Regions from separate parts of the Homo sapiens genome. Here regions 1 and 3 are each linked to region 2. The links come from fine-mapping of genetic effects on gene expression. A gene starts in region 2. Each other region holds a variant in brackets. All regions are shown on one strand. Distances are between the middles of the regions. Region 1 holds the start of LOC105369435 (a long non-coding RNA gene). Region 2 holds the start of PANX1 (pannexin 1). Region 3 overlaps PANX1 (pannexin 1).

Evidence for each region. PIP is the estimated chance that this variant, and not a neighbour inherited with it, causes the effect. A credible set is the group of variants that fine-mapping cannot tell apart.
Region 1: its variant is the best candidate, but not a certain one, in a credible set for the expression of PANX1 in whole blood (GTEx, PIP 0.57).
Region 3: its variant is the best candidate, but not a certain one, in a credible set for the expression of PANX1 in esophagus mucosa (GTEx, PIP 0.81).

What each region holds. Positions count from the first base shown.
Region 1 is chr11:94,192,796-94,203,500 of GRCh38, forward strand. LOC105369435 (a long non-coding RNA gene) reads left to right here and starts at 4,614. Exons shown (of 5, transcript XR_947901.3): 1 at 4,614-7,196; 2 at 9,602-9,753. The variant T/C (reference allele first, on the strand shown) is at 5,883.
Region 2 is chr11:94,124,593-94,135,297 of GRCh38, forward strand. It overlaps PANX1 (pannexin 1), which reads left to right and starts at 4,249. Exons shown (of 5, transcript NM_015368.4): 1 at 4,249-4,901. The coding sequence starts at 4,721. RefSeq lists enhancers at 4,182-4,241, 4,562-4,821, 8,641-9,140 and a silencer at 4,472-4,541.
Region 3 is chr11:94,161,947-94,172,651 of GRCh38, forward strand. The region is part of intron 2 of PANX1 (pannexin 1); the gene reads left to right. Among named protein-coding and RNA genes, the nearest start is that of PANX1, 38 kb to the left of the region's middle. The variant G/A (reference allele first, on the strand shown) is at 6,427.

The sequences.
Region 1 (10,705 bases), 68 kb after region 2:
GTCCTTCTCATAAAGGCTACAAGTCTGTTAAATTCAGGCATCTTAGTGCCTTTTTAGTAGTCTTTGTTAAAGAAAAGTTGTTCGATGCACTTGTTAAAGCATGGGACAGCAAACTTTATTCAGGACCATCACAACAGGTATCAGGACCACTGCAATGGGATTTCACAGTGGGAGAGATTGGGCTCAACTTCGAATACAGCATGGGCAAGTGGAAATTTATAACCAAGAAGCAGGATGGGGGTCATTGGATGGAAAATTACTAAGAGGAACCATCAGAAGTTAAGGAGATTGTCGCCAACTCAACCTAACAGTAGGAGCAAATAATCTGTCAACCTCCCCACCCCAACCTCAGTCTAGCAACATGCTGAGCACACAGCAAGCTGAGGGGAGATGGATGGAAGCTGAAAGTCAGTGTGTGGGTGATGTAGTGTTTCACCCCTCTGAGAGCAAACTACAGGTGCTCATTCTTTAACCTGTGAAGTGGAGAAAGCAATGTAATAAGAGCACATGGTAGAGTCCCTCCAAAAGTTTTCCCATCAGATGAGCTTTCTAAGTCATAGACTCCCACTGCCTAAGTGGAGAAAAATTCATACCCTATTTTCTCCCAGCCTAGTGCTCCCTTCACTATCCTGTGCCTTCCTCCAAGCCTGCAATCTGTGCCAGGTGATTCATCTCCCACTTGGCCCAAGGATGGCCTTTGTGCAGCACATCAACTGAGAAGCTGGGCTCGTATTCAAGCCAGTGAGTCATCCCTGAGCATTGATCAGGTTGGGGCAGGGAACCAAGGGTTGGTGGGCTTTTCCCTAGATAGGAAACTCATGAGGAAATAGCCTTCATGACTTCAGACTCAGTTGCAGAGTGAAGTTGGTATTCATTCATTCAACAAAGGGTTTTTCAAACACCTGCTATCTGGTATTGGGCATATTAAGGTGAAAAATCCAGCAAGCCTCTGGGGTCATGGAGTTTGCTGGGAATTATGGTGGCAAAAAGGAAAAGGAAGACCAAGAAAGCCTAAAGCTTTGTTTCCATCTATAATTTCGCCTCTCTGAGCCATTTGCCCAGTGAGGGGCTTGGACTAAACAACCTCTAGAATCTATTGGTCTGTGTCTCTGTGGTCTATGTCTTCTTTCATCGTGTCCCACACTAGATCCCTGGGAATCCAGATGGAAAGAAGGAAGGAAATTAGTATTTGTTGAGTGCCTACATGCCAGGCATTAAACAGTGCATATTAGCTCATTAAATCTTCACAATCCAGTGAGGATGTTCCTTTAGTTTTGGGGTGAGGGACATTAAGGGAATGGGTTCTCAAGACAAGCTGCCTGAGTTCTGGCCTGAGGCTGCCCGCTGACCTGCGTGACCTGAGTTCTTGACTCCTCTGGGCCTTAGTTCCCTCCTGTATGACAGAAAGTCATGGATTTTGACGAGGGCTGAAGTCGATTAAACAAAGGCAGTAAACGTAATGCCGGCACATAATAAACACTCAATCCCTCAGTCTTTTTTAAGTCTAGCAGCATTTTCTTTATTCACATCGTAAGCCATGTTTGAAAAACGAGAAAATCCCAAACTATTGGAGCATTACAGACAGGCGATTTAGCATATTGAGAAAGCCCAATTTGAGTTTTGATATCAGAAAATCTGGTTTGGAGTCTTAGCTCTAATACTTCCAAGAGGTGACCCAGTGAGTCACTTAAAATGTTTTCCCTGTACCAGTGTCTACTCCTCAGGGTTGTTGTGAGGATTCAATGAGAATGATGTACCTGGCACTCTACAGGAGCTCAACAATAGCTATTTATCTTACCTCAAATAGAAACCCATTTACAATAGTTAAGTGAAAAGGACATCATTTCGAGCTGCTGCTCAGAACCCAATGGAGGCGAATTCAGCTGGGAAAGGATACTGGAAAGGCTATTGCTAAGACAGAAAAACTCGACCTCATCCAAGAGCAGCGAGACACCCTACCCTCAACCCCCAGGTTTTGTCACTGGGCCCTGTGTGAGTGGCAGCAAAGATGGCAGAGTTGTGAAGGTGCCGTGGGCATTTTTGGAATGACTCAAGAACATCTTTGACTCAGCACGGGCAACAGCCAGATGGACCTTGTGGGTGTGAACCTCCCGAGCATTTGGAGCGGAGGCTGGAGAAGCTACCCAGGGAACCCCAGCCCCCAGGGCCATTGTGCAAACCCGCGTGGGCACTGCCGGAGACACACACTCTGCCTGCTTCAGCGCTCCTCTCCCCGGGCCAGGGCTGCCAGCTCATCCTGCCCTGCCTGGCTGGGGTGGCAGAAGGTGAATCCCAAAACAGGCCACTGGCTCCTCTCATTTTCTACTCCTTTCTCTTTTGTCATTTATTAGTTTTAGTTTTAATTTTCAAAGATGATGCAAGCTATTGATGAGTATACATTTATTGCAAAAGAAAATCGGATAATATAGAAATATAGTCATGCATCACTTAACAATGTAGATACAGTCTGAGAAATGCTTCTTTATGTGATTCTGTCATGTGAACATCGTGGAGAACTTACCCAAACCTAGCTACTATAACCTAGATCGTATAACCATATGATGCAGCCTATTGCTCCTGGGCTACATACCTGTACGGCATGTTACTGTACTGAATTCTGTAACACAGCATTAAGTATGTGTGTATCTATCAACTCTAAACGTAGAAAAGGTGCAGTAATACCTTAAAAATAAGGTATGTTGTATGTGCAGTCTGTCCTCAACCGAAATGTTATCACTATGCAATGCTTGACTGTCTATGGAGTGAGGGTCCTCCATGCATTGCTGCCTTTCATAAGCCCAGTCTGGACTGCCCAGCAGAGTCACGGTTATCACCAGAGTGTCCACCTCCTTGCTCGTCTTGAGGTCTTATACTTTGCACCAAGCTGCCTTGGTCACCTGTTTAATGATTTTAGGACTGAATTGTTTCAGAAGGGAAAGAGCATCATAATTTTCTGACACATATTTAAGCATATTTTTCTATCAACATGTAACATTTTGGTCAAGTGCCACTAGTTTGAGGAATTCTTTTTCAACTGGATTTAAAGAGGCTCTGAAGGCCAGCAGATGCAGTTTTGCTGCACAACTTAAAGAACTTCCTTGATCTTCTAACAACACAATATTCAACCAAGAAATAATGATAATATCACTTACTCCAGAAGACTCTTGTGAGGGTTAAAAGAGGGAACAGATGTCAGCAACTACAATGCCTGGCACAGGTGAAGCCTAATATTAGTTCTGGTTATTTTATTAGAATCTGTTGTTGGCCTTACAGTAGAACTCTCAGTAATTTTTTACCGTATTTTCATGTTTTATTTTTTTATTTTTTTATTTTTGAGATGGAGTTTCGCTCTTGTCGTCCAGGCCAAAGTGCAGTGGCGTGATCTCGACTCACTGCAACCTCCACCTCACAAGTTCTCTCTTCTTAGCTCACCTCCACCCTGGGGTCCCCTCTTTCTTCCTGCAGCCCCCAGAACAAGCCGACAACCAACCTGCCCTCAGATAACTCCCCATCATGTCATCAGAAGAGACATGCACTCAGGTGGTGGTGCACAGGCTTAGGGGGCAGGCGGGAAGTCTCCTGGCCCTAGGAAAAGTTTCCTTCACAAAGCACCTGCTGTGGTAGGTGCTTTGCTAAAGCACACAGTCTAAATGAACTAGTTTACCCCTTACTATGTAATAATGAGTAGGTTGGCACCCTCCCCAGAAGAGTAAACAGAAGCCTGGGAGCTCCATGACCTGCCCAAACCACACGGCCAGGATCTAATCCTGGGCCAGCCTGACTCGAAAACCCGAGTCATGTCAGTGCTAACTGTGACCAGAGGACTGCTTGCATCAGAATATGTGGACATGCTTGTTAAAAAGGCAGATTCCTGGGCCTCTCCACAGACCCACTGAGTCAGGACCTCTGGGGCAGGGCCTGGGGATGTGCATTTATCACACCTTCCTGGTGACTCTGAAACATACCAACATCTGAGAATCCCTGCCCTGTGCTGTACTGCCTGCCTGTGCACTGAACCAGGGGGACCCAGCAGAAGACAGCTAGGAGAAGGGGAAGTTGTTCCAGAAGGATCAGAATCTGTCAACACCTGTTTATTAGGAAGATCTAGTGGCGTTTTTGGGAACCAAAGGAACAATGAAGGTCCCTGAGGACACCCCCACTATAGGCCATGCTAGAGGCCTGGTGCCCTGCACACATTTCTAGCTCCTTTCACCAGTTCCAAGAAAAGACAGTGTTCTGAGAGGGCACGTACATTCACAGAAGCAACAAGGCAGCACCAGCTGTGGCCCACTGGACTATCTTGGCTTCCCACCCTGACTCAAGGGCTGGGCATCCCTGATGGCCCTGTGCACCCCACCCCCATGAGTGTAGCCCACCCTGAACTGGGGCTGAGTGCTGCCAATGTGGTTGGCCCTCTGATAGGGTTTGGCTGTGTCCCTACCCAAATCTCAACTTGAATTGTATCTCCCAGAATTCCCAGGTGTTGTGAGAGGGACCCAGCAGAGATAATTGAATCATGGGGGCTGGTCTTTCCTGTGCTATTCTCGTGATAGTGAGTAAGTCTCACGAGAACTGGTGGGTTTATCAGGGGTTTTCGCTTTTGCTTCTTCCTTATCGTCTCTTGCCACTGCCATGTAAGAACTGCCTTTTGCCCTCTGCCATGATTGTGAGACCTCCCAGCTATGATGGACTGTAAGTAAAATTAAACCTCCTTTTCTTCCCAGTCTTGGGTATGTATCAGCAGCGTGAAAACGGACTAATACACATCCTTAGTTGGAAGGGAGCCAGAGGGGTCAGAAACATCCTTTATGGTGGAGGGGGCACTTTATGTTGGTTGTCTAAGTGAGTTTGGGCTGCTAGAACATGAACACCACAGACTGGGTGACTTAACAGAAATGTATTCCTCACAGTATGAAGTCTGGGAAGTCTAAGATCAAAGTGCTGGCTGATTTGGTTGTTGGTGAGAGCTCACTTCCTGGTTTGTGGAGGGATGCCTTCTCACAGTATCCTCACGTGACTGAGGGAAAGCTAGCTCACTCCCTGGCTGCTCCTTAAAAGACACTCATCCCATTCATGAGGGCTCTACCCTCATGATCTAATTACCCCCCAAAGGTTCCACCTCTAGACACTATCACATTGGGGATTACAGCTTCAAAATATAAATTTTGGTGAGACACATACATTTGGTCCATAGCACTGACGTCGTCTCATTTTGTAGTCCAATAGCAGGAAAAAGAGGGTCAATTATCCCCACTTTATAGATGAGGAAGATGAGTTCTGAGACAGGGTACGGAGGTAGAGTAGAGGGGGAAAGAAGCTAGATGAAGGGCGTCATATCCCCTAATTTGTCCTGAGGTAGGGAGGGGGAGAGCTGGTAGCTGTCACATGAGTGGTCACTATATAGACAAATAGTGGGGCCCACTTCCAGGGCAGGACTCAGAAGCACTAGTGGAGGGTCCAGTCCAGAGAAGGGACTCCACAAATGATGCCGCTGTAATTATTGTCTGATCATCTATTCATCACACATTTTCTGAGTACATCCTCTGTGGTGAGCACTACTCATATGTTCTTTATCATCCTCATGGACATGACACCCCACTTGGCCTGCGGTGGCTGGAGACCTGGGGAGGAGTCATATCACAGCTTTTAGACCCACTCTGACATCGAGGTTAAATGCAACTTTAGGGCCAGCAAGTACAAGCCTTATTCTGCCACTTACTAGCTGCAGGGCCTGGGGTGGCACTTGGCCTCCCAAGGGAAGGTGCTCTTTTCCCCATTTTACAATTGAGAGGACAAGATATGAGAGGTGAAAATACAGACCTCCCTGACTAGAATTCATTCTCCCAACCACCATGCACACTAGTGTTTCCCAGAGGTGGTCC[T/C]GCAGGCTTCAGAATCTTGTGAGGTGTTTGGAGAGTGATTCCTGACCCCTCCTCCGACTCAGTAAATCTTGACAGTGAGGCCCCAAAATATGAATTCTTCACAAGCTCTGAAGGTGATTCTTATGTGTGTTGGGGCTTGAGAATTGGCTCTCCTGCCTCCTCATTTCCAGTCTTTAAACAGGGATCTGCACAGCAGCAGGCAGCAGAAGTAGGCAGCGCTCTGGAAATACAGTTGGCAAAAGCTCTCTCCCTTAAAACTAACAGGGAGAGAGCTAACTCCATGACTGGCATGACATCTGTGAACAAAGGAAGTGACAGGGCCACCAAGAACTGCTGTGGGCCAGTGAGAGCAACAGAAGACCAGGTCCTAGCCTTCCCTGCTGAGAACTTTACCCATTGCCTAGTGAGAAGGAACTGGAGATGCCATCAGAGCTGCATCGTAGTAATGCTGGTAGATTTCAATTTTTACAATTTATATTTGTTATGAATGTATTCACCATTCCTTAGAGTATGTTTAATTATCCTCAGTCTTTGTTCTGCTTTTAAAATCCACATTGAAAAGGCAAAGTGACATGTGCTTAAGAGGTCTTTAATAAATACTTTGGTCAAGAACAGGGAGGGGGTAGTTTAATTCCTCCTGATTAGACCCGCCTACTTCCCGGCCATCTGAAATTTAAATTTAAGTAAAAGTCAGTATGCTTTCTAAATAAATGCAGTTTCACAACACAACCTTTAGCCCACACTCAAGCAACTATATGGCTGCCCCTAATTCCTCCTCTATTGACATTCAGGAGCTGCCAGGGTTTCTGTAAAAGTACCTGAACACAGTGGATCAACCAACAGTGGCTCTGGGGTTTAGAGTTTTGAGCAGCAGCTCAGAATGATATCCATCTGCCTTTCTGAATCACAGCCAACTTCTGGCCTCTCTGCACAGATTTGGTGCAGGAAACTAGCCATACCCACGCCCACACCCACAGCTCGCCCCGTGCCTCCTTCATCTTCATAATTCTGCTCCCACCCTCTTCCCTCTTCCTTGCCCTTCAAGTTGCAACACTGAACTGAGTTTATGGATGATGCTCAACAATTTATTGTTGATTAACTGATTGATTGATTCTGTTGCTATGGAAACCATCAGATTCTAGTACAACAGTGGGATTCCTTCCTGACTTTATGCTTGACAAAATGCTGACTCTCTGTGCTTGCTTCTCCCAGCTTGCCACCTCCATCTGGGTCAGGAGGAGCAATTGGAAGCAGAAGCTCCAAGAGAAAGGTGGGAATGTTGGTAAACCCAGGTGAAAAAAAGCAACAAGGAGGGTAAGTGGCCCTGCAATGTGGAAATTTCCATCAGAAGCAGCCTACACAGTGATTATAAGTGTCAGGGCTTTTAGATCAAGCTATACCTGGGTTCAAATCTCACTTCCTCCACTTATTAGGCTTAAGGTTAATTAAGCCTTTCAGCCTTCATTTTCTCATTTGTTTTAATTGAGATAATACTGTGCCTTTAGGTTGCCTGGAGAAATTACGAAATGATACAAGGAAGTTAGAAAGCAGAGTGCCTGGTACCTACGGGAGCCTTGCCCAGGCCAAGAGGGATGCAGACCTCCCATTTTTTAAGGCTCTTAGATAGAAAGTGAATAGCAACAATATTACATAAATTGAGGAAGAGCTTTATGTATACATTTTTTTGAATTATCACTTTTTTAGTACAAAAATACAATGCAAGATTATAGGAATTCTAGAAAATATTAATTCAAGGTTCCTCATGACTCTGTGTCTAGAAATTAGACACAAAGTCTGAATGATAAATATCTTCTTCTCAGGAAATCTTTGTGATTTTATTTATAAATTGTTTGAACATGATGTCATAGTCGAAACTTGTGGTCCTTTGTGACTGAGCTGCCCAGCATTCTGCCTCAATAAACCTCCCTGGACAGGGTAAGTGTTCATTTAGTGATGGCCACACCTGTCATCCCAGCACTTTGGGAGGCTAAAGTGAGTGCATCACCTGACATCAGGAGTTCGAGACAAGCCTGGCTAACATGGTGAAACCCTGTCTTTACTAAAAATACAAAAAAAATTAGCTGAGTGTGGTGGCGGGCACCTGTAATCCCAGCTACTCAGCAGGCTGAGGTAGGAGAATCACTTGAACCTGGGAGGCAGAAGTTGCAGCGAGCCAAAATCAAGCCATTGCACTCCAGCCTGGGCAACAAGAATGAAACTCTGTCTAAAAAAAAAGAAAAAAGAAAAAAAAATTAGTAATTTTCAGCATCATCATAATGTCTCCAGTGAAGCTGAAACCACCACACATACTGCAGATGGAGTTTTGTCACTGTACACTGCACAATGATAGGGACCCCTGGGGCACCTCCAGACAGCATGAAGGTGACTGACCTCCCTGTAGACTAACCTCCTAGACCCTGTGCATCAGTGTGACGAGTGCATGCATTTCATGACTCAGTTCAAACGGCAGCTCCTCTTTGAACAGGACCCTGGCTGCTCACTCATAGTAATGCCCTTTTGTGTACTCCCAGTGCAGTTTATTTATACATCTGTTTAATAATTACCAGATGCTTCCAGTGTTCCCTTTGCCCCCTTGGAGTTAAATTCTTCCCAGCCCTTTTGGAGTTAAATATGGCCACATGAATTTGATGAAGCAAACATGAGTGAAAGTGACATGCTCCTTACGAGCTAAGGCACAGTGTACTAGGGTTCCTTTCCCTCTGCCACAGCAACCAGCAACAGCTGCTATGTCAGCCTGGGCCCTAGAGTGAGAATTATATGAGTGGAGGCCATGAACATTTAGGACAAGGTTTGTTGATTAAAAACACTGAAAGTTGTCGATTGTTACTGTAGTATTAACTGACCTATACTGATTGATACATTCTGTTTTAGACTGACTGTATTGTAAAAATTCTGTTTATATGTTTGTCTGTCCTCATAACCAAGAATTTTTTAAGGGTACAAGCTGTGTCTTACTCATTTCTGATTCTGGAGCTTCCAGCACAGTGCCAACATGCACTCATATATACATAATGGATGCTTATTAATATGTGTTGGCTAGACAAGTAAACTTTAAGTGCGGTCTGTTTGAGATATCACTACATTCATTGATGGCTTCATGCCATTGCCACATCTATGCTTTTTTGGAATAAGGTCTTCATATTCCATTTCTTTATCACTTCTCGTCCTGTGGTATAAGAGGTCGTCTACCACGACATCATGGGTTATTCCCACATCTTCAGCAACTCTCCTGATTGTTTCAGACATCCATTCATCCATCCATCCATCCAGTCTTCCATCCATTCCTTTACTCATTTATACATATGTTCATTTATTCATCAAATATTGTCTGAATGTCCACTGTGTGCCAGGGACTGTGCAATAGGCTGGGAATATGGATATGCATAAAATGTATTTATCTCTCTCTCCTCTCCATCTTCCCTTCCCTGTGAAGGGACAGCAAGAAGCTCCAAAACAAAGGTGGAAATGGTGGTAAATCTGGATGAAAAAAAGCAATGGAGACGGGAGATGAGGGCACCTGTGATGTGGAAAATTCCATTAGAAGCAGCCTACACAGTGATTATGGGTATTGGTACTTTAGGCTCAATCTAGACCTGGGTTCAAATCTCAGTTATTTCACTGATTAGGCTTAACTTTAGTTAAGTCTTTTACTTTCTGTGTCCTCAATTGTAAAATTGGAATAATATCTGTGCCTTTAGGTTGCTAGGAGAAATGAATGAAATGATACAAGTAAGGTAGAAAGCAGAGTGCTTTCTACAAGCCAAGAAGTGGCCCCCCAACAGATACCAAGCTCTGGACCTCCTGGTGCCTTGATTTTGGACTTCCCAGCCTTTTTCAGACCTGTGAGAAAGTAAGTTTGTTGCTTAAACCACCCAGTCTCTGGTATTTTCATTACGGCAACATGAACAGACTAAAGGGAAAAAAAGACAAGCAAACAGATGTGAAAAATGCATTATATAACAAAAAATGGTTGTCAATGCTAAGTCTAAGTTGTTTTTATGAACAAAACCTTTCAAGTTTGAAAAATACTTCCCTAGTCTAATCATCTTGTTTTTCAGACAAAGAAACTGAGGATTTGCTGGGTCAGGGAAGCAACCTTTTGCTTAGAACTCTGCTAGGTGGCTTAGGGTGCTTGAGAATCATGAGGGTCTGACCTAACCCAAGAAAGACAAGCAGTTAGGACTAGCTCTCAGCCTAAGTTTGTCAGTCTGGCTTTCCAGATCCGCTTCCATGATACACCACTGAGGGTTTTTTGTGGAAAAAAAAAAGTCAGGGGCCAAATTGGTACCATTGAATATGCTAGAGCAACATCTATTAACAGACCACATGCAGGTCTAATGAAACACTCCCGGGGGGTTGTGTTCTCTCTGTTTGTGTATCAGCTAATAGGAGCCCTGACTGTCACAGGGCCAGAATGCATGTGGATGTACCAGCTGCACCTATGTGTGTTGGGGTGGGAGAGGTTTTCAGGGCTTGGTTAAGCTGCATAGGCCATGACCTTGTTCCCTGTGAGGAAGCCAGAGTGTCCTAGTGGATAGAGGAGTATGGCCCTTGTCCTGGACAGATTTGGGTTCAAATGCTGAGTCAGCCACTTAAATATGAGCGTACTGAATTTCCCCATCTGTTAAATGCAGATAACAATGTAAGTTTGTTGATAAGCGCCATTGAATAATTTACATAAAGCACAGAGGCTAGCCTATGAAAATCCACACTATATGGCAAATGTTATTGTTCCCAATGTCATCGTTAAATAAGATAACATATACAAAGTTATCAGGCCAGAGGGTGCTCAAAACAAATTA
Region 2 (10,705 bases):
GTTAGGAATGGCTACTGCTACAGGAACCGGAATAGTCAGTTTATCTACTTCATTATCCTACTACCACACACTCTCAAAGGATTTCTCAGACAGTTTGCAAGAGATAACGAAATCTATCCTTATTCTACAATCCCAAATAGACTCTTTGGCAGCAGCGACTCTCCAAAACGGCCGAGGCCTAGACCTCCTCACTGCTGAGAAAGGAGGACTGTGCACCTTCTTAGGGGAAGAGTGTTGTTTTCACACTAACCATTCAGGGATAGTATGATATGCCACCTGGCGTTTACAGGAAAAGGCTTCCAAAATCAGACAATGCCTTTCAAACTCTTATACCAACCTCTGGAGTTGGGCAACATGGCTTCTCCCCTTTCTAGGTCCCATGGCAGCCATCTTACTATTACTTGCCTTCGGGCCCTGTATTTTTAAACTCCTTGTTAAATTTGTTTCCTCTAGGATCGAGGCCATCAAGCTACAGATGGTCTTACCAATGGAACCCCAAATGAGCTCAACTAACAACTTCTACCGAGGACCCCTGGACCGACCCGCTGGTCCTTTCACTGGCCTAAAGAGTTCCCCTCTGGAGGATACTACAACTGCAGGGCCCCTTCTTTGCTCCTATCCAGCAGGAAGTAGCTAGAGCAGTCATCACCCAATTCCCAACAGCAGTTGGGGTGTCCTGTTTAGAGGGGGGATTGAGAGGTGAAGCCAGCTGGGCTTCTGGGTCAGATGGGGACTTGGAGAAATTTTCTGTCTAGCTAGAGGATTGTAAACACACCAATCAGTGCTCTGTGTCTAGCTAAAGGTTTGTAAACGCACCAATCAGTACTCTGTAAAAACACAGCAACCAGCGCTCTGTGTCTACCTAAAGGTTTGTAAATGCACCAATCAGCACTCTGTAAAAATGCACCAATCGGTGCTCTGTGTGTAGCTAAAGTTTTGTAAATGCACCAATTATCACTCTGTGAAATGGACCAATCAGCGCTCTGTAAAATGGACCAATCAGCAAGATGTGGGCGGGGCCAAATAAGTGAATACAAGCTGGCCACCAGAGCGGCAAGCTGCTCAGCTTCCCTTCCATGCTGTGGAAGCTTTGTTCTTTTGTTCTTCACAATAAATCTTGCTGCTGCTCACTCTTTGGGTCCACACTACCTTTAAGAACAGTAACACTCAACACGAGGGCCCGTGGCTTCATTCTTGAAGTCAGTGAGACCAAGAACCCACCAGAAGGAATCAATTCCGGACACACTATTTTCCAACAAGTTCTCCATCTGGCTTCTATTTTAAATTCATTAAAAGTAGGATAACATCATATGGAATGTAAAAAATTGCCAAAACTGAGGGCAATTTATGCAACTGCTGAGATTCACTCCAGATCCTCAGAGGAACTTGCTATGTAATGAAAAAAGAGATACACAATCCATCATCCCATCACAGGAGGCAAAATGAACTAACTTCTAGGCCAGAGGAGAGAGTAACAAGGGAGGGAAGGATTCATTACAACTGGAGGATCCTGGAAGGCTTCCTAAAAAGGGGGCATTTGAGCCTAAAAAGGGGCCATTTGAGCCTATCGGATGATTAGCTTTTGGCAAGGAAAGAAGGGAAATGGCACCCATGATTTCCTGACTCCCAGAAAGCCCCTGTCCCAGCTCTGAATGTCCCAACTGACACATTCTCCCAGGCCCTACTTATTCTCTGCACCTCCCTTGGTATACCCCACTTTTCACAATAATCACTCTTTCTACCTTGCATTATAGTTAATTGTGTGCATGCCTTATTTCTCTTGCTAAGCCATAAGGTCTTTGAGGAAATGGAATCCATTCACTTCATTTCTGCTTCCCCATCCACTGAGCCCAGAACTGGCCCATCACCAGCCTCTAATATATGCCTGGAATGTATGGATAAATGAGTGTGAACTGGGCCAGTTTTAAAAAGTGTTCAGATTCCTTCAGACATTTATTTAATAATATGAATTAAAACATCAACTCTGTGTGAGGCATTTGTGCTAAGTGTTGAGGATAAAAGTGGTACACATGGGCATGGGCCTACCCTCAAGAAGCCGATCACATAAAGTGGTGGCAAACACTAAATAAATGAATAAATATTTGTTGAGTTGCAATGGTGACTATTTTTAAGAAGGAAAAATAGAGAACAATGACAGATGAAATGTACCTAGATTCACAAGGTGCCAGGCACTGGGCACTACCCACGTGTTAACTCATTTGGTCCTTATCACAGTCCTAAGAGGTACAACCTTTTTACAGATGAGAAAACTGAGACACAGGAGAGTCAAAGAACTCCCCAAGACTAATAGCTAGTAACTAGTGTGGCTAGTATTATGGGAGAATTTCACAAAGGGACCTAATCTAGTCTGTCTACTTAGGGAAGGCTTTCCCAGGGAAGTGACATCAAGCTGAGGCCAGAAGGGTGAATAAAGGTGGGCCAGGCAAAGAGGCCACTGTGGGGAGTGTTTTGGGTGGGAAGGCCTGGAGGAGGCCAAGGGCTTAGCTAACTTGAAGAACTGAAAGGAAAGCAGTGAAGCTGGTGGTGAGGTAGGCAGAGGCCATGCTAAGAAATTTGTATTTTATGCTAAAAACAATGTACACTTTAAGTAGAAAAGATGATCCGACTGGAGTTTTGAAAAGCTCATCCTGGCAGCTGTAGAGGAGAATGGAGGGGGACCCTGTCTCACATATTTCCTATATGTGGTTAGGAGACAGGATGGTGAGTTGAATTGGGTATTGGCAGTGCAGGTGGAGGGGTGTCAGATTTGCTATATTTAGGAGAGAGAAGCAAGAGAATTTGAAAATTGGTTATGGCAGCTGTGAGAAATGGAGTGTTGAAGATGGTGCTCCAGGATTCCGACTTGGGTGCACAGGTGGCTGGTGGTACATTTAGTAAGATGGGGAAGATGGAGTTCAGGTTTAAGGGGAAGATGAAGACTGAAGTCCTGGCCGTTATGAGTTTGAAGCCCTATGAGCCATCTACGCGGAGAGAGCTGTATACGCTCTTGGATGTGTGTTTAGCGGCCAGGCTGGGGTGGAGAGGTACATGTGGGAGTTGAGGCTTGTATCTGTGGACCCACAGAGAAGGGAGCCAAGCCCTGCCCCAAGGAGCCCTCATGTTTGCAGGTCCTGCCTGCTTCAAATGTTACTGGTGATAACCTACATGTCACATTTGACAGGGCTTCCAAACTAAGCCATCTAAGAAAGGTCTTATGATTCATGGCTTAGATCCTGTCCCTGAGTAAAAAATCTTACTGTGAGTCCTTCAAATCCTTTTGTCAGTTCCTCAAACTGCTGATGTACTGATTAGTATGTAAAATACTGACATTGAAAAGAACACTGACTTGTTTCTGAATCATATAAACTTTGATTTTCTTGTGCACAAAACATTTTAGCCTGTATGTTGTCATCTGCAGCCAGTGACTGTAACCTGTGTACCATACCCTCCGATGAAAAAAATCCCACCTCTGATATAAGGGGTCCTCCTCCCTTTTCCTAAACTTTCTTCTAAAACCCTTCCAACGTGTAACAAATTTTGAAACATGCCCAACTTTGCTGGTAAGTCTTCTTGGGTGGATCCTCACATTTAGCTTCCAATAAATCAAATTATTTCTACTTCAACAGCCTTAATTTCCGTGGACACTGGTCAGAGTATTTCCTCCTGTCTTTCCATCATCCACTTCCTATGAGCTGTTCAGAAGCAGCTCTCTGCAGCCCCAACACCCACCTACCTGCAGGCCCCCCTCTCTCTGCTGGCTCCCGGAACAAGGCTCTGATTGGGATGGCAGAGGAAAGAGAAACGGGACCAGCAGCGCTACTCAGGCCTCGAAACTCCACACTCACTACCGTTTCCGCGCCACCCTCTCACGCGGAGCTCCTGGAAGGGTCCAGCGCTCCCTCTGCAAGGCACCGTCGGTCTACACCGCTCGATTGGCCTTTTATGGCACTGACTGTTCTTTGAAGCTTTTGCAGCTCCTTCTAACCCGATTTCACCGTGTTGGAAATGTTGGGGGTGGGGCGTAAAGGGGGCCATCCCATCCACAGAAAGAGTCGCTTGCAGAAATGATTTTAAAACTCCCGGGTGCCAGGACGTGAGGAGAATCCGGCAGGGAGGGACGGGAGAATTTCCAAAGGTGCCGCTCAGTGGGAAAATCCCTTTGTCAGAGAGTGGCCCGAGGGGCGCGGAATGCAGCCGCGCCCACCCCGCCCCGCGTCACCGCGTCTTCCGGAAGCTCCACGCCCCTGGGTACTTGGTTTCCCCGCATGGTTCCGGAAGAGCGCGGCGCAGCTGGCTGTGAGCGCAGGGCTATCCCGGCGGCCGCTTCGGCAGCCAGGGCGGCGCGGAGGGGCAGGGCCAGAGGGAAGCGCTTTGTTCCGCGCGTGGTTCCCGCGCCTGGGGGTGCGCGGGAGAGGCGCGAATCCGAGTGCCGCGCGCGGCCCGGGGACTTGCACGGGCGTGCGGGGTGGAACCGCAGGAAGCGGAGCTCTCGGGTTCCCGCCCCGCCCCGCCCCGCCGGCGGCGGAGGCAGCGAGCGCGAGAGCCCAGCGGAGTCGCTGGGAGCCTGAGGCACCGAGACACAAAGGCAGGCGGGATGCGGGAGCAGGCAAAGGGAAAGCGAAAGCCGCGCGCCCGGCCGGTGACTGGGTGAAGGCGCCGCGCAGCTTTCCCGACGCCGGCTGTACCCGGACCTCCTGGTCGAGCCTGGCGCGCCGCAGCCATGGCCATCGCTCAACTGGCCACGGAGTACGTGTTCTCGGATTTCTTGCTGAAGGAGCCCACGGAGCCCAAGTTCAAGGGGCTGCGACTGGAGCTGGCTGTGGACAAGATGGTCACGTGCATTGCGGTGGGGCTGCCCCTGCTGCTCATCTCGCTGGCCTTCGCGCAGGAGATCTCGATTGGTAAGCCTCGCCCAGGACGGAGGGGAGTGGCCGCCCCGGTCTGGCCCGGTGAGCTGCGATTTTACGGCTCACAGGCCCGAGTCTGGGTACGCCCAGCTGTGATGGTCGTGAGCGTCAGGAAGGGCAGTGGCCCCAGTTTTATGGTCCAAAGCGTTCTTTGCCCAGGTGTTTCATTGGTACCCTGGTCTACTCTGCTCGCATCCCTACTCCTCAGTTCTTTTGTTCCTCATGCCCCTCTGATCGGACTGTGGCTTATAGTTTATGTTCCACCCTTAGAACTGGCACCTTGCCACCAGATTTGCCAAGAATAGCTGTGTCCCCGTTTTTCACCCCTGTCTCCTACATATTTGTCCAGCCGCCTAAAATTTTACACCAGAGAAGTTCCTGAGTGGCTACATGGAGGATGTGAAGACCGGTGCTCCATGAGAAGTGTGTTCTTTCAGTGTCTTACATATAATTGGTATTTGCTGAGATCTTAGCTCTCTAGGGTTGTGAATGATAGGAAATATCTGCACTTGGCAGGCATTAGAGGGATCCTCAACTTGGACGGTCTTACAAATGTGAGATGAACAAGTCCCCTTCCTGTAAATTATCATTTGAGCTTCATAACAGTTGTGTGAGATTGGAAAGTCTGGTGGTTTGGGCAGGATCACGTGGCTACGTGCCTTACCTTCCTCATCAGCTGTTCTGACTCTCCACACAGGAGAGAGTGTTTATGAACCAACAGGAAGGTAGCGCAGGAGGGTTAAATACAGTTCTGTGGCAGGGGAAGAGAGAGGACCCAGTGCGGCTGGACTTTGGGAAAACTTTTGTCAGAGGGTGGGTGGGATTTGGACAAGAAGGAGTAAGACCTTTGTTAAGGTTTTGAGATGGCAGAGAATGTTATATGTTCCTGGAAAGAGAGACACAGTGACTCTCCTAGCCAAGGCAGGAGGATAAGTCAGAGTTCCTGGAGTCTGAGAGTGAATATGGGCCTGGGTCAGCCTGGAACAGAAGAGTGTAGGCTGATGGTTTCAGAACTGTGAAGTTATTGTTTGAGCAGAGGACAGACTGGTTGAATGATGGTGGCATTTAGGGTCTGGGAAGAAGGTGAGAGGATGGGGCCTGGAGGGCTGGGTGCCAGAGAGCAAGGCATCGGCTGAGGTCTTGTGCACAGAGGGTGTGAAGAGTGGAAGAAAATGGGTGGGTGATTGCTGTGCGATCAAGGAGTAAATAAGCAGCACTTGAGTACCTAGTATTTAATAGGCCATGAACGGCAGTACTGGTCAAACGTGCTGCGGAGGTTGTATGTCTGGGTGAGTGGAGTGTGGTGTTGGTGGTGATGGGAATTGTGAAGTTGAGGGAATAGTTGATTAGGAAAGAATGACTATGAGTGTGATTTTGCAATCTGCAGCACTAAGTTGTTCAGCTTGGCAGGAAGTTGCCAAATTCATTGTGGAAAATAGTTTTTAGTTTTCCTGCTCTTTGCGCAGGCATAGTCATCGGGATGTTCTTTAAGTTTCCATTTGACAGTGGATTGAGGCTTCCAGCTGAAAGCAAAACCACCAAGTAGCATGAGTCCTGGAGATAATCTCTCCCTTTGGTCAATTCCTCCTTCAGTACTGGCTGTGTGCTGAACTCGGTGCTGACCTCCAAGGACCCGGGAGTAAAAGAGGCATGATCCCTGTCTTGGAGGTGCAAGTCTTGGGTACCTGGTTGGGACAGAAAGGCAGGAGGAAGGAGTTAGTCACCCTCTGTGACCAATCTCCACCTCTAGCACATGTACTAGAGGGACTCCTAAGGCACCTGTACCTGTAATGCCTTAGATACGTCTAAATTGGTGGGCTGTCTGAGAGGTATTTTTGGGGTATTGGGAGTGGTTTTAACTAGCAAGAGTTTGAGCTCATGCTGTGTGCATAGCACTGTTGTGTGCTGAGGGAGATGGGAAAGGATTTTGAGACCTTGTTCTTGCCCTGCCCTCTCCCTGCCCTGTGGCAGTTTACTATGCAGTTGGGCACTAGAAGGTATCTGTTAGCAGGTAAGTCATTCAGCTGTGTGTAATTCAGCACCCAGCCAGGTGTTGAGCTATGAGCTCCAGGCTGGTGAAGGTTGGCAGGCACTTGGGTGAGGAGCTGTCAAGCAGACTCCCATGTTTTCTGAAGTGTTTTCAGGAGTTCCAGGGGAGGACAGACATGTGGGATGAAGCTAACAGGACCAGGGAAGACCTATTAGATTAGGTATACATTTAGATAAAACCAGAAGAAGGGCTTTTGAGAAGAGGGGAGAGGTACATAGATTAATACATGGAGTTGGTACAGTGGGAGGGATCATGTCATGCAGCATTTAATTTTGTGTAGTTAGTAGTATGCACTCAGCCAAAAACAAACCAAAAAAAAGAACAGCAATAAAGGGAGAATGAAGTAATTGAAATGGAGCTGGCACTTTGCCCACCATATTGGCCAGTGAACTCAGGCCCCGGGAAGACACTGAGATAAGGCCTGCAGACTTAAAACATGGCTTCATCCTTCCTCTGTTGATAATTACTGCTTCCCTCTCTGGTGCTTGGAATACTCTTTTGTTGAACTTAACACAGAGCTTTATAACCTGTCTATGCATGTTTTGCATGGAGATTGAAACTACTCTATAAACATTTGTTGTGAATTAAAGGTGATAGCTTTTGGCATCATCAGACCTTGCTAATTGATTGTTATGTGCATGATGCTGTACCTTGGCAATGGGGTGTCAGACACACGTAGGACATAAGAATCTTTCCTCTGGAAGCACGGTCTAGTAGAGAAGTTGAACGCATAACCCTCCTAATGCAGGATTCATGGAACCTGGGCAGTGTCAGAAGTGTGTACTAAAGCCTGATGCTGTGGAAAGGCAGAAGGAGGGGTTTCTTCTGACTCATGAACAGTGAGAGTTTCAGGGCAGAGTTGGCCCCTGAGGCAGGATTCCAAGTGTGTGGAGCAGTGTTGGCTGAAGCTGAGACGTGTGAGACAACATGTGGCTGCTGGAGCTTTAGTGGCACCGTCACATGGAGAGGTGGGAGCCAAAGTAAGGGTCCAGGGGCTCCACATGAAAGAAGGCATAGCAAATCCCATTGTTTTCCTGTTTGTGTTGGGGGGGTGGTGTGTGTGTGTATAAAATTAGAAACGAGAAAATCAGCTGTAATTACATGTTTTTCCTTTTTCCACCTGTATGATAAACTAGTATATATAAGAATTCATCTCTTTTGATATAAAATCCCCTCAAGCGTAAAATAAATTATATTTTCCAGTTACTTTCCAAAAATTAAATTTTCTGTCAACTGTTGTTTGATAAAATAGGGTTCAAGTTGAAACTTTGTGGCGATTTTTCCTTTAAATAAATGATTTTTTACTTTAAAGAAAATCTATTAAATCAAGAAATGTGCATGGATTGTGCTTTAGATTTAAGAGCAGGTTCTCTGTGGGGGTGGGAGTGTTGTAGGTTAGAGAGAGGGAATGTCCTCATATGATAAAATACTTGGCTTCATATTAAAGGCTTCCGTTTGGTCTTTGGCCTTTTCTCTTAGTAGTTCAGCCCACTGGGCTCCTCTCAGAAAAGAGGGACTGAGCCTGCCTGGGCCACAGAGACCCATGGGCATAGCAGCAGGCTGATCTTTATCAAGCCCTGCTGGGTGCCAGCATGGTGGCTGCAGGTGAAGCGTCCACTCCTCAGAGGTTCTGGCCCCTTCCCTCCCACAGCAGTTCACGCAGGTCCTGCATGGTAGGCACTGGTGTGGGGCTACCTGGGCTGGTGGGGACTGTGTTGGGGACAGAGAGCAGAAGGGACTCTGCCTTGCTCATTCACCAGATCTTGGTCTGGCTGCCCACAATCACAGGTTGAGGGTCACTGCAGAAGTGATGTGGTCTGGAGGGGCATGGCAAGGCTGGTGCCATGGTCAAGGTGGAGGCAACTTTGGTAGTCTTTGCGGCAGCCACTCATTGGTCCAGATGTGCCCTGTGATAGTGAGAATTACAAGCAGAAACCCTCCTGAGGGAGTGGCAAGGAGACTCTTCTGAGTTGTGCCTGGGAGCATTTTGAAGGCTTTTGGACAGTGAGATACTAAGGATTGAATGTAAGAACTAAAATGTGCACCTGTCTGGTTAGGCCTGATACTTCTAGTCAGCCTTTCTAAAATACTGCAGGTGTGCCTCCTCTGAGATTCAGCTGGGTAGGGGGAAAATAAGTGACACACAGCAAAAGACAGTTTAATTGTGAGTTTGGGCTAGAAAGGCTGTGTGGTGGGAGCCAGAGAAGGGAGAATCAGTGGTTTCACCAGCCCTCATTTTTCCTTCCTCTTGTCTTCTACCATGTCTTGCCCTCAACAAGTGCTCCATAGGAATTTAGTGAAGGAAGTGCCAGAGCACACTAGGGAACTCTCCCAGAGTGGCTGTGCTGAGGGAATGGACGGAGTGTTCTGGATAAGGGTCCCAGTTGCTTGGAAGTGCGCCCTCTGAGTGCCATTTAATGATACAAGTGCTGTCCTGGGTCAGGCCTGTCCTGGCCACCTCCCAGACACCTGCCTCTGATGATAGCAGTAAAGGATGCACATCGTCATGATAGGTAAGTTGTCCCACTTGATTTATAAGCTCAGGTTATATTGCGTGTGCCTCAGATTCTTTTTTATGTTATTTTTGTGATGAGGAAGAATCTGTGTTCAGAGTGCAGAATGGTGTACTGTGGAAGAAGGATGAGTGTGATCTGTGTGGCTTGGGTACCCTATGGGTGTCACCTTGTGCAAGCTGCTGGGAGACAGTGCCTTGAGGCCCTTCATTTCTAACACATCTACTCTCAGATGCCTCTAGAAGTGCTGCACATTTCATTGATGGGGGGAGAGGTTTAGGAAATGGCTGGGCGACAGCTTTGTGTAGAATATAAGCATGATTGCATGACGTGACCTTCAAGCTCTGAAATTCTAGAAGTATTTCTCTAAAGTTATGAATTCCCTTAGTGTGCTGCAGTTATGGACTGAATGTTTGTGTCTCCCAACCGCAAAATTCATATGTCGAAGTCCTGATCCCCAATGTGATGCTAATTGGAGATCCCTTTGGGAGGTAATTAGGTTTGGATGAGATTATGAGAGTGGGACCTTCATGATGGGATGCCCTTAGAAAAAGAAGAAATCCCTCTTTCTCTCCCCCCTCCCTCTTCCTCTCCCCCCTCCCTCTTCCTCCTTCTCTCCCTCTTTCCCTCTCTCTCCCACTACCCCCCTTCCTCTCTTCTTCCCTCTTCCTCTCTCCACAAGTGCGGCCACAAGGAAAGGTGTGTGAGCACGCTGGGAGAAGGGGGCCATCTGCAAACTAGGAAAAGAGCTCTCACCAGACACCGAATCTGCTGGTACCTTGATCTTGAACTTCCCAGGCTGTGAGAAAATAACTGTTGTTTAAGCCACCCAGTCTGTGGGATTTTCTTACAGCAGCCTGGTTGAAGACAAAACTATCAACAGACCAGACTCTGAATGGGATTCATGTTTAAGGGGTCTTTTGACAGGGCCTCCTGTGCCCTGCGCTTAGGGCTGTACAAGGCCTGAGGCGTCAGGGGCTGCTTTGATTCCCTGGTGCCTCATGTGGCACATATCCCCTGGGAAGGAGAGCCCGTGTCTCCTGCCAGGATGTTTCTGGCTGGCTGGACCAGGTGGGGAGCTGGGGCAGCCAGTAGTCTACTAGGGAAAGGGTGTCTGGTCAGCCGGGGACCCTGCCTCCCTCACCCACTGACCTCTTAGTGGGCAGCCACCGTTCTGGGTAGAGAAGGACTTAGTCTTTCTGAGTTAGCACTGCTCTTTTGCTATCATTACAGGG
Region 3 (10,705 bases), 37 kb after region 2:
CTCAGCTGCAGGTGTGTTGGAGTTTGCCAGAGGTCCACTCCAGACCCTGTTTGCCTGGGTATCAGCATCGGAGGCTGCAGAACAGCAGATACTGGTGAGCAGCAAATGTTGCTGCCTGATCGTTCCTCTGGAAGTTTTGTCTCAGAGGAGTACCTGGTTGTGTGAGGTGTCAGTCTGCCCCTACTGGGGGGTGCCTCCCAGTTAGGCTGCTCGGGGGTCAGGGACCCACTTGAGGAGGCAGTCTGTCCATTCTCAGACCTCCAGCTGCGTACTGGGAGAACCACTACTCTCTTCAAAGCTGTCAGACAGGGACATTTAAGTCTGCAGAGGTTTCTGCTGCCTTTTGTTTTGCTATTCCCTGTCCCCAGAGGTGGAGTCTACAGAGGCAGGCAGGCCTCCTTGAGCTGTGGTGGGCTCCACCCATTTCGAGTTTCCTGGCCACTTTGTTTACCTACTCAAGCCTCAGCAATGGTGGACGCCCCTCCCCCAGCCTCGCTGCCACCTTGCAGTTTGATCTCGACTGCTGTGCTAGCAATGAGCGAGGCTCCGTGGGCGTAGGACCCTCCGAGCCAGGCGCTGGATATAATCTTCTGGTGTGCCATTTGCTAATACCGTTGGATAAGCGCAGTATTAGGGTGGGAGTGACCTGATTTTCCAGGTGCCATCTTTCACCCCTTTCTTTGACTAGGAAAGGGAATTTCCTGACCCCTTGCGCTTCCCGGGTGAGGTGATGCCTCGCCCTGCTTCGGCTCACGCTGGGTGCGCGGCACCCACTGTCCTGCCCCCACTTTCTGACACTCCCCAGTGAGATGAATCCGGTTCCTCAGTTGGAAATGCAGAAATTACCTGTCTTCTGCGTCGCTCACACTGGGAGCTCTAGACTGGAGCTGTTCCTATTCGGCCATCTTGGCTCCACCAACCTCTCTTTTTTTTTTTTTTTTTTGAGACAGGGTCTCACTTTGTCACCCAGGCCTGAGTGTAGTGGCACAAACATGGCTCACTGCAGCCTCAATCTCCTGGGTGTAAGGCAGTCCTCCTGCCACAGCCCACCAAGTAGCTGGGACTACAGGCATGCACCACTGCATGTGGCTAATTTTTGTTATTTTTTGTAGAAATGGTCTCAAACTCCCGAGTTCAAGAGATCCACTTATCTTGGCCTTCCAGAGTGTTGGGATTACAGGCGTGAGCCACCACACCTGGCTTATTTTTCTTACTTTTTATTTTAATTTTTAAGTTTTATGGTTACATAATATTTGTACATATTTGTGGACTACATGTGATATTTTGATATAAGCATAGAATGTATAATGAGCAAATCAGGGAATGAAAGTGTTAGAAGTGGGCATCCTTGTTCCATATCTTAGAGGAAAGGCTTTCAGTTTTTCCCCATTCTTTGTGACACTAGCTGTGGGTTTGTTGTAAGTCTTCTTTATTATATTGAGGTATGTTCCTTCTGTACTCAGTTTGTTCAGGGTTTTTATCATGAAGGGATGTTGACTGTTACTGAATGCTTTTTTGGCATCTATGGAAATGATCATATGCTTTTTGTCCTTCATTCTGTTGATGTGATGTATCAAATTTATTGATTTGCATATGTTGAACTATCCTTGCATCCCTAAGATAAATCCCACTTGGTTGTGATGAATGATCTTTTTAATGTGTTATTGAATCAGTTTGCTAGGATTTTATTGAGGATTTTTATATCTGTGTTCATCGGAGGTATTGGCTTATAATTTTACTTGTCTTTGTCTGATTTTGGTGTCATGGTTAAGACTGGCTTTATAAAATTATTCCCTCCTCTAAGGATGGTTTGGAATTATTCCCTCCTCAGTTTTTTTGAATACTTTAAGTAGGGTTGGTGTTAGTTCTTTTTTAAAAGTTTGGTAGAATTTAGCAGTGAAGCCATCAGGTCCTGGGCTTTTCTTTGATGGGAGACTTATTATTACTGCCTCTCCCTTGTTACTTGCTATTGGTCTATTCAGGTTTTGTATTTCTTCATGGTCCAATCTTGGTAGGTTGTATGTGTCTAGAAATTTATCAATTTTTTTTAGGTTTTGCAATTTATTGGCATATCGTTGCTCATAATAGTCTTTAGTGATCCTTTGAATTTCTGTGGTATGAATGATAATGTCTCCTTTTTTGTCTCTAATTTTATTTATTTGGTCTTTCTTTTTTTTTTAGTCTGGCTAAAGGTTTGTTGATTTTGTCTTTTCAAAAAACCAACTTTTAAATTTTATTGATGTTTTGTATTTTTTTGGTTTCAATTTTATTTCTGCTCTTTAATAGTCTACTGAATTTGTGTTTGATTTGCTCTTGCTTTTCTAGTTCTTTAAGATCTGTCATTAAGCTGTTTATTTGAAGTCTTTCTACTTTTTTGATGTAGGTATTTATTGCTTTAAACATCCCTGTTAGTACTGCTTTTGCTATATCCAGTAGGTTTTGGTATGTTGTGTTCTCATTTTCATTTGTTTCAAGAAATTTTTAAACTTTATTCTTAATCTCTTCATTGACCCAGTGGTCATTCAGGAGCATATTAATTTCCATGTGTTTAGTTTCCAAAGTTTCTCTTGTCATTGATTTCTGACCTTGTGGTCAGAAAAGATACTTTTATGATTTCAATTATTTTGAATTTTTCGAGACTTGTTTTGTGGCCTAACATGTGGTCTATCTGTGAGAATGTTCCATTTGCTAAAGAGCAGAATGTTCTGCAGCTATTGCATGAAATGTTCTGTAAATGTCTGTTAGGTATATTTGGCCTACAGTGTAGCTTGAGCCTGATATTTCTTTATTTTTTGTCTAGATGATCTGCTCAATACTGAAAGTCGGGCGTGAAGTTCCCGACTATTATTATATTGGGCTTTATCCCTCTTTAGCTCTAATAATATTTTCTTTATATATCTGAGTGCTCCAGCATTGGGTGCTTATATATTTACAATTGTTACACCCTCTTAGTGAATTGATCCCGTTATCATTATATAATGACTTACTTTTTATCTTTTTACAGTTTCTGTATTGAGATTTATTTTATCTGATACATGTATAGCTATTCCCGCTCTTTTTTGGTTTCTGTTTGCATGGAATATATTTTTCAGCCCTTCATTTTCAGCCTATATGTGTCTTATAGGTGAAGTGAGTTTCTGGTCAGCAGCGTTTGGTTGGGTCTTGGTTTTTTATCCAGTGAGCCATTCTTTCTCTTGATTGAAGAATTTAGTTCATTTACATTCAATGTGATTATTGATAGGTAAGGACTTACTACTGCAATTTTGTTATTTGTTTTCTGGTTGTTTTGTTAGTTTCTCTTTTTTTCCTTTTTCTCTGTCTTCCTTTGTGTATAAATGATTTTTTTGGTAGTATGTTTTAATTTCTTGCTTTTTATTTTTATTTATTTTTTTTAATTTTTTAATTTTATTATTATTATACTTTAAGTTTTAGGGTACATGTGCACAACGTGCAGGTTTGTTACTAATGAGCAAAATAACCAGCTAACATCATAATGACAGGATCAAATTCACACATAACAATATTAACTTTAAATGTAAATGGGCTAAATGCTCCAATTAAAAATTCTCAGCTTTTTATTTTTTGTGTATCTATTATAGGCTTTTACTTTGTTTGCCATGAGGCTGCACATGAGGCTGTGATTGGAATTAAGTTATCTTCCGTTTAAAATAATTGGTTATGTGGCCGGGCACAGTGGCTCATGCCTGTAATCCCAGCATTTTGGGAGGCCAAGGCAGGCAGATCACATGAGGTCAGGAATTCAAGACCAGCCTGCCCAACATGGAGAAACCCTGTCCCTTCTACACATACAAAATTAGCCAGGCATGGTGGTGCATGCCTGTAATCCCAGCTACTCGGGAGGCTGAGGCAGAAGAATCACTTGAACTTACCAAGAGGCAGAGGTTGCAGTGAGCTGAGATCGCACCATTGCACTCCAGCCTGGGCAACAAGAGTGAAACTCTGTTTCAAGTAATATAATAGTAATAACTATTATTATTATTATTGGTTATGTTATTAACCAATTATTTTAAACTGAAGATAACTTAATTCCAATTACAATGAAAATAAAAAAACAAGCCAAAAGAAAACTAAAAAGTTCTGGACTTTAACTTCATCCCCCCCTCGCTTTCGACTTCTTGTCACTTTATATCTTTTTATATTGTGTATCTCCTAACAACTTGTAATTATGATTATTTTTGATACGTTTACCTTAGGGTCTTCATTTTAAGGTATGAGTGGTTTACATACCACAATTACAGTGTTAGAGTATTCTGTATTTGTCTGTGTACTTACTTTTACCAGTGAGTCTGTATTTTTAGATGATTTCTTGTTGCTCCTTACCATCCTTTTCTTTCAGACTGAAGAACTCCTTTTACCATGTCTCGTAAGACAGTTCTAGTGTTGATGAAATACCTCAGCTTTTGTTTGTCTGGGAAAGTCTTTATTTCACCTTTATGTTTGAAGGATAACTTTGCTGGTGATGATATTCTAGGTTGGAAGCTTTTTTCCTTTAGTGCTTTGAATATGTCATCCCACTCCCTCCTGGACTGTAAGGTTTCCACTGAAAAGTCTGCTGCCAGATATCTTGGAACTCTTTTATATGTAATTTGCATCTTTTCACCTGGTGTTTTTGGGATCCTTTCTTTGTCCTTCACCTTTGAAAGTTGGATTATTGTATTCCTTGAGGTAGTCTTGCTTGGGTTGAGTCTTCTTTGTGTCCTTTAACCTTCTCATACCTGCATATTATATCAGGCATCTATCTGGTGCTTTATTTTATTGTGACTGAGCCTGATATCTAAGTTGCAAGACAGTATCCTCTGTACTCTTTCCTCTCCTTTGCCCAAGTTGAAAGATCTCTCCCCAAGCTGCACTGCTTGGAGTTGGGAGAGAGGTGATGCAGGTGTTCCCATGGCTGGTACAGTTAATGTCGTACTGGGTCACATCCCAAGCCCACTGCTTCTAAGACCAGTGCAGCACCAGGGCTTGTCCAAGGCCTACAGTTACTATGTCCTGATTGGCACTCAGATTTATTTGGGGCCCTAAGTCACTTTAGTCAGTTGGTGGTGAAGCCAGCAGGAGTCACTTTTCTCCCACTGGGGCAGAAGATTCCCCTCTGGCCCAGGGCTGGTCTAAATGCTTCTTTTGTGGGACCTGGCAGAAGTCTGCCTGGTGTTGTGTGAGGCTTTGACAAGGCAGCACTGAGTTCCAGTGCAAAGTCGCATACTCATTTTGCTCTCCCTCCTTCAAGCACACGGATTCTTCTCCAGACTGCACTGCCTGGGTTTAGGGGAGGGGTGGTGTAAGCAGTGCAAGACCGTACTTCCTACTCTCTTCAATGCCACTTTCGTTGTTATGTTAAAACCAGGTACAGTGATTGCTCCTCTGATTTTTTAGTTCTTAGGAGGGTGCTTTCTTGCATGGATACTTTATATCTTTTTATATTGTCTATCTCCTAATGGGGGTCAATCATTGGAGGGTTCAATTCAGCCATTTTGCTCTGCCTCCTCTTATGTACTGTCAAATTCTTGCTCAGGTTTTTCACATATGATATTCAGCACTCACTAGGAAATAACTAGATGTACAAGAAAACCAAGAGAAAAATCAGAAATAGAAACAAACCTGTTGGAGATCCAGATAGTGGATTGATCAACCATGCATTTTAACTAATCATTAATCATATATTCAAAGAATTATGATTATATGGAGATTTTTTACGTAGAACTGACTGAAAACTGCACCAAAATAATCAAATAGAAATTCTTGAGCTGAAAACATTTAGTCACAGTTGATTTCAGCTAACGTTGATTGAGGGCCTACCATATGCTGGAATGTATGTGCAGTGGCAGAAAGCCACAGATGACATGGTCCCTTCATCAAGGAGCTTGTTGTTTAGTGGAAAAAATAAACATGGAAGAAGGCAGTGAGAGGGAATAATCAGCTAAATGGTAAAAGGAGAGTGTTTCAGACAGTAGTGAACTCTGTTAAATGCTGCTGCAGAGAAGCCAGTGCAGTCTGGGAGAAATACAACTTACTGGATTTAATGAAAATATTGGGGATCCAGCAGGAATGATTTTAGTGGAGAAGTGGGAGGCAGATGGCTGTGGTGAAGAGTGAATGGGAGGTAAGGAAATGAAGATGATTAGACAATTTCTTCACAATTTTTTTTCCCTTTTCATAAACTCTCTCTTCCTGATAACCAGAAGAGAGAGGAACAAGCTGGGTGACAACTGGAAGGAAAATACAGGCCCAAAAGCACAAAAAAAGCACTGTCTGGGAGGGTGGGAAGCACTTTCTGGGGGAGGCGTGGCCTGTTGGGGGCATTGGGGCCTTGATTAACTATGATGCAGGGTAGGCTAGGTTACAGGGGACTTTGAAAACTAACCAGATGGATGGGCTAAATGCTGGGGACAGCGGGAGCCATTGCAG[G/A]TACCTGAGCAGGGTGAACTTGGCGGTTCCAAGAGTTAAGCCTCAGTAATGGTGTACAGGAGAGAATAGAGGCAGGGAGAGCCACTTGGTAAGCACAGAGTGAGGGTTCTAATTAGGGAACAGAAAGGAAAAGAAGCAGTTTTGTCCAAGAAGGCAAAGAGCAAACAAAAAGCAATACTCTTATGTCTTATTGCTGATTAGAAGATCACGCAAAAGGATAGTCGAAAGTGACATCAAGGGCCTAGACCAGGGTCAGCAAACTTCTGCAGAGGGCCAGATCATAAAGTTTTTTTGTCATTGCAGATCACATGGTCACTGTCGCAGCTACTTAGTTCTGCAGAGTAGACATGATTGCTTGTGGCCAGATTTGGCTCAGGGGCAGCAGTTTGCTGATCCTTGGTCTAGAGTGACAGCAGTTGAGATCTAGGGTGACAGCAGTGGAGGTGGGAAGTGCATCTTTTCTAAGACTCAGGGCATCTTTTCTAAGATACGGAAGTAACAAGATGTGCTGATTGGACATGGGAAGATGAGAGAAAGATCAGGATTAAGGACATGACCAAGGTTTCAGGCACCGGATGGAATGACACCTTCATGACACTTGAAGAAGCCTGGTGAAGAAGCAGATTTTGGAGGAAAATCAAAGAGTTCTGCTTGAACATGTTGAATCAGGTGCTGTGGTCCAGATGATGTGTCAGGTGGGCAGTGAGATATGGTATCTGGAGATTGCAGGCTAGAATAGAGCTATAGATATGGCAGATTGTCAGAAAATAGATAGTGTTTAAAGCTATAGGAGTGGATGGTGTTTCTTAGGGGGTGATTATATGTAGACAGGGGCAAGGTCTGAGGGCTGCTCCAACATGGAGAGAGGGTGGGGTAGGACCAGTCAACAGAGGAGACACAGAGAGGTGGGGTGATGAGGAAAGTTAAACAGTGTGCTGTATGCTTGAAAGGCAGGGTATCTTGTAAAGAAAGATGGTGTCAATGTGATAACCTGTGTCAGATGCTGCCAAGAGTGCGAGTAAGGTGAGGACTGAGACTTAGGCTAACTCTACATTTGGGTGGTATCATGGGCTGAATTGTGTCCCCCAAAAGATATGTCGAAGTTTTAACCCAGTGTGCCCTAAACTGTGACACCTTATTTGGAAATATAATTATAGCAGATGTAATTAGTTAAGATGGGGTCTTACTGCAGTAGGGTGGGCCTTTAACTCAGTATGACTGCTATCCTCATAAGAAGAGGGGAATTTGGACACAGACATGCTCAGAGGGAAGACAACATGAAGACACTCAGGGAGAAAACAGCCGCATGCCCACAGGGGGCTGGATTGGAGTTATGCAGCCAAGCCAAGGAATGCTGGGGCGACTGGAAGCTGGAAGACGCTGGGAGGATCCTGCCATGGAGACTCGGGAGGGAGCATGGCCCTGCTAGCACCTTGATTTTGAACTCCTCACCTCTAAAACCATGAAAGAAAAAATTTCTGTGGTTTTAAGCCATCAAATTTGTGGGATTTGGTTGGTAATGCCAGGAGTTAGAGAGAAATGAAGATTCAGCCTAATTGGAGAAATAAAACCTATACCAGATAGGAATATTAGTGCATGGCTTTCTTAGGCCAGATTCAGTAATCGCAGCTGCTTTATTTCTACGTTGATCTCTTTTTCAAGTTTTTCTTTTTCTTTTTTGATAAAATATACATAACATAAAATTTACCTTTCTCTTTGTAGGTATATAGCCCAGTGGCATTAAGTACATTTACATTGTTGCGAAACCATCGCCATTACCCATCTCCTGAATTTTTCATCTTCCCAAACTGAGACCTGCATCCATTAAGCAGTAATTTTCCATTTCCCCATCCCCCCAGCCCCTGGCAACCTCCATTCTGTTTTCTGTCTCTCTGCATTTGTCTATTCTAGATACCTCATATAAGTGAAACCATACAATATTTGTCCTTTTGTGTCTGGCTTATCTCACTGAAGAAAATGTTTTCACAGTTCATTAATGTGGTGACATACATCAGAATCTCCTTCCTTTTTAAGACTGAATAACATCCCATTGTAAATTTGTACGAGATTTTGTTTATCCGTTCATCAGCGCATACTTGGGTTGCTTGCCCTTATTGGCTATTGTGAATATTGCTGCTGTGAACATCTGTTCGAGTCCTCACTTTGTTTCTTTTGGATACATACCCCAAAGTGGAATTGCTGGATTCTCTTTCAAAGATGAAAAGGTTTTCTTGTGGCTTCTCCACACTGAGCAGACTCGGGACTGTTAAGCTGTTAGGGTCCTCTCATTCAGGCTCCGAGGGCCAGAGTGATCAGTGCCTTTTCTGAGGTCGCACAGCCAGATGGCAGGTGAGCCCACATCCTTCTTCAGATTTCAGACATGTTTCCCATGTGAGAAGGTCCAGTTCTAACTTCTGTGGCTTGAGAATTCTGGACTGTAGCCTGTAGGTGATGGTCACCTGCTGATGAGCTGCAGTTCAACACAAGGAGAGTCTTTCTGGCACAATTGCTGTCCAGCAGGGGAGCCCACTGTTGACCCAGGAGTTCCTTAGTTCAGCGTGCTCATGGACTTGCGTAATTTCTTCCCATGCCTGTATTTCTTACCTTGCTACTGTTTCTTCATAGAAAACTCAGTTCCTTAGCTGTTCTGGATACTGGCTATGCCTTCCCCATGCCCTCCTCATTGCTGTCATTCTCCCAGTCACCCCTCATTCATTCAGGACTCAGTCATGCTCATCCTCCTTCACCACCCCAAGGTGACTTCTGTGTCCTCCTGGATGGCACATCTAGCCTCAGTCTCTGTCTCATCTGCAAGAACTTTTACCTCCTTTCCATTTCCATCTCCATCATGAGTTCCTGTGGCCACCTCATTCTGAACTTGCTGTCACTTGAAACTAACTTCAGGCATCCCACTCCCTGTCTCTGCCTCCTGCCCTCCAAGGCCTTCCCCAAGCACTTTCAAATAAAATGGAAGCTTGACATGAAAATATCTTGCCATAATTCTGCTTTATTAATTCTTTATCTCTTAAGACTGTAAGCTTTATGCAGGCAGAGACCATGACCATGTCTTGTTTATCCATGTACCCCTGAGACAATGCGTAGTCCATAGTGGGTGCTTGAAGACTATATGCGGAAGGGAAGAGGGCAGTGAGGTAGTTGTGTGTCCTGTTCAGAACCAGACTTGGTTCTCCAGGAGCATCCTGACAAAGGATGGGGGATTAGAGGCACAGGGTTTATTCAGCACTTCTCAATTTAATTCTGATGCTGAAGTTAGGAGAGCTCAGTTACCCCAAAGAAGTTATTCAGTGTAATATTTAAGTCAGCACTGGTATGACACTGGTATGATCAATGGTGTCATTTTTCTCCAACCGACTTTGATTTCTCCCTGTCTTCCTCCTCCCTTTCTCTCCCACTCCATGCACTACTGATGACCTCTAAGGACACACTGTGAGGCCTTTGCTGGAGATGTGGGTACAGTCTCGGGGGGTGGGGGGCACCCAGTAGGTGGCGCTCTAACACTGCTTGAGAACTGGCTTTTTTTTTTCCTTTGAGTGTTCTGTTCCCTTTGTTCAAGTTTAGAATGCGGGAGGCAACTATTAGTAAGATTTCTCTCTGAAACAGGAAAGTCCGTTTTTGACTGAAAAAAACAATAAGAAAAACAAGAACAAAATTAGGAGAGTGGGCAAATCTTTATTTCTCTTAAGTAGACTCATAGAAACTTGGTTGGAGGAATCCTCTGAGGCTTTCAGACCAGAGGCTTCCAAACCTTAGCATTGCCAGAGTGGCCTTGTGAAAATTCAGGCTCCCGAGGCCATCTAGGCCATTAGGTTGGAGCTTCTGTGGTTAAGGTCAGGAATGTGGTTTTTATCGGCTTCCCAGGAGATTCTGATGTGAGCCCATCTTGCCGTACAATGTGGGCACCACCCATCTACACCATTTCTCAAATTCTCTGTGCATGCAGATCACCTGGGGATTTTGTTGAACTTTAGGCTCTGATTCAGCAGGTCTGATAGGGACCTGCAATTCTGCATTTATAACAGACTGCCAGGTGATAACTGAGGTTTGTGGTCTATGGACCACACCACTCTTTGAGAAGCAAGAATCCAGAGCCAGGGTTGGCAGACTAGGACACACATGCTTGAGCCAAATCAGTCCATACCTGTTTTTGTAAATAAAATTTTATTGGAACACAACTGTGCCCCATTTGTTCACACATTATCTGTGGCTGCTTTTGCACTATAATGGCAGAGTTGAGCAGCTGCAACAGAGACCATGTAGC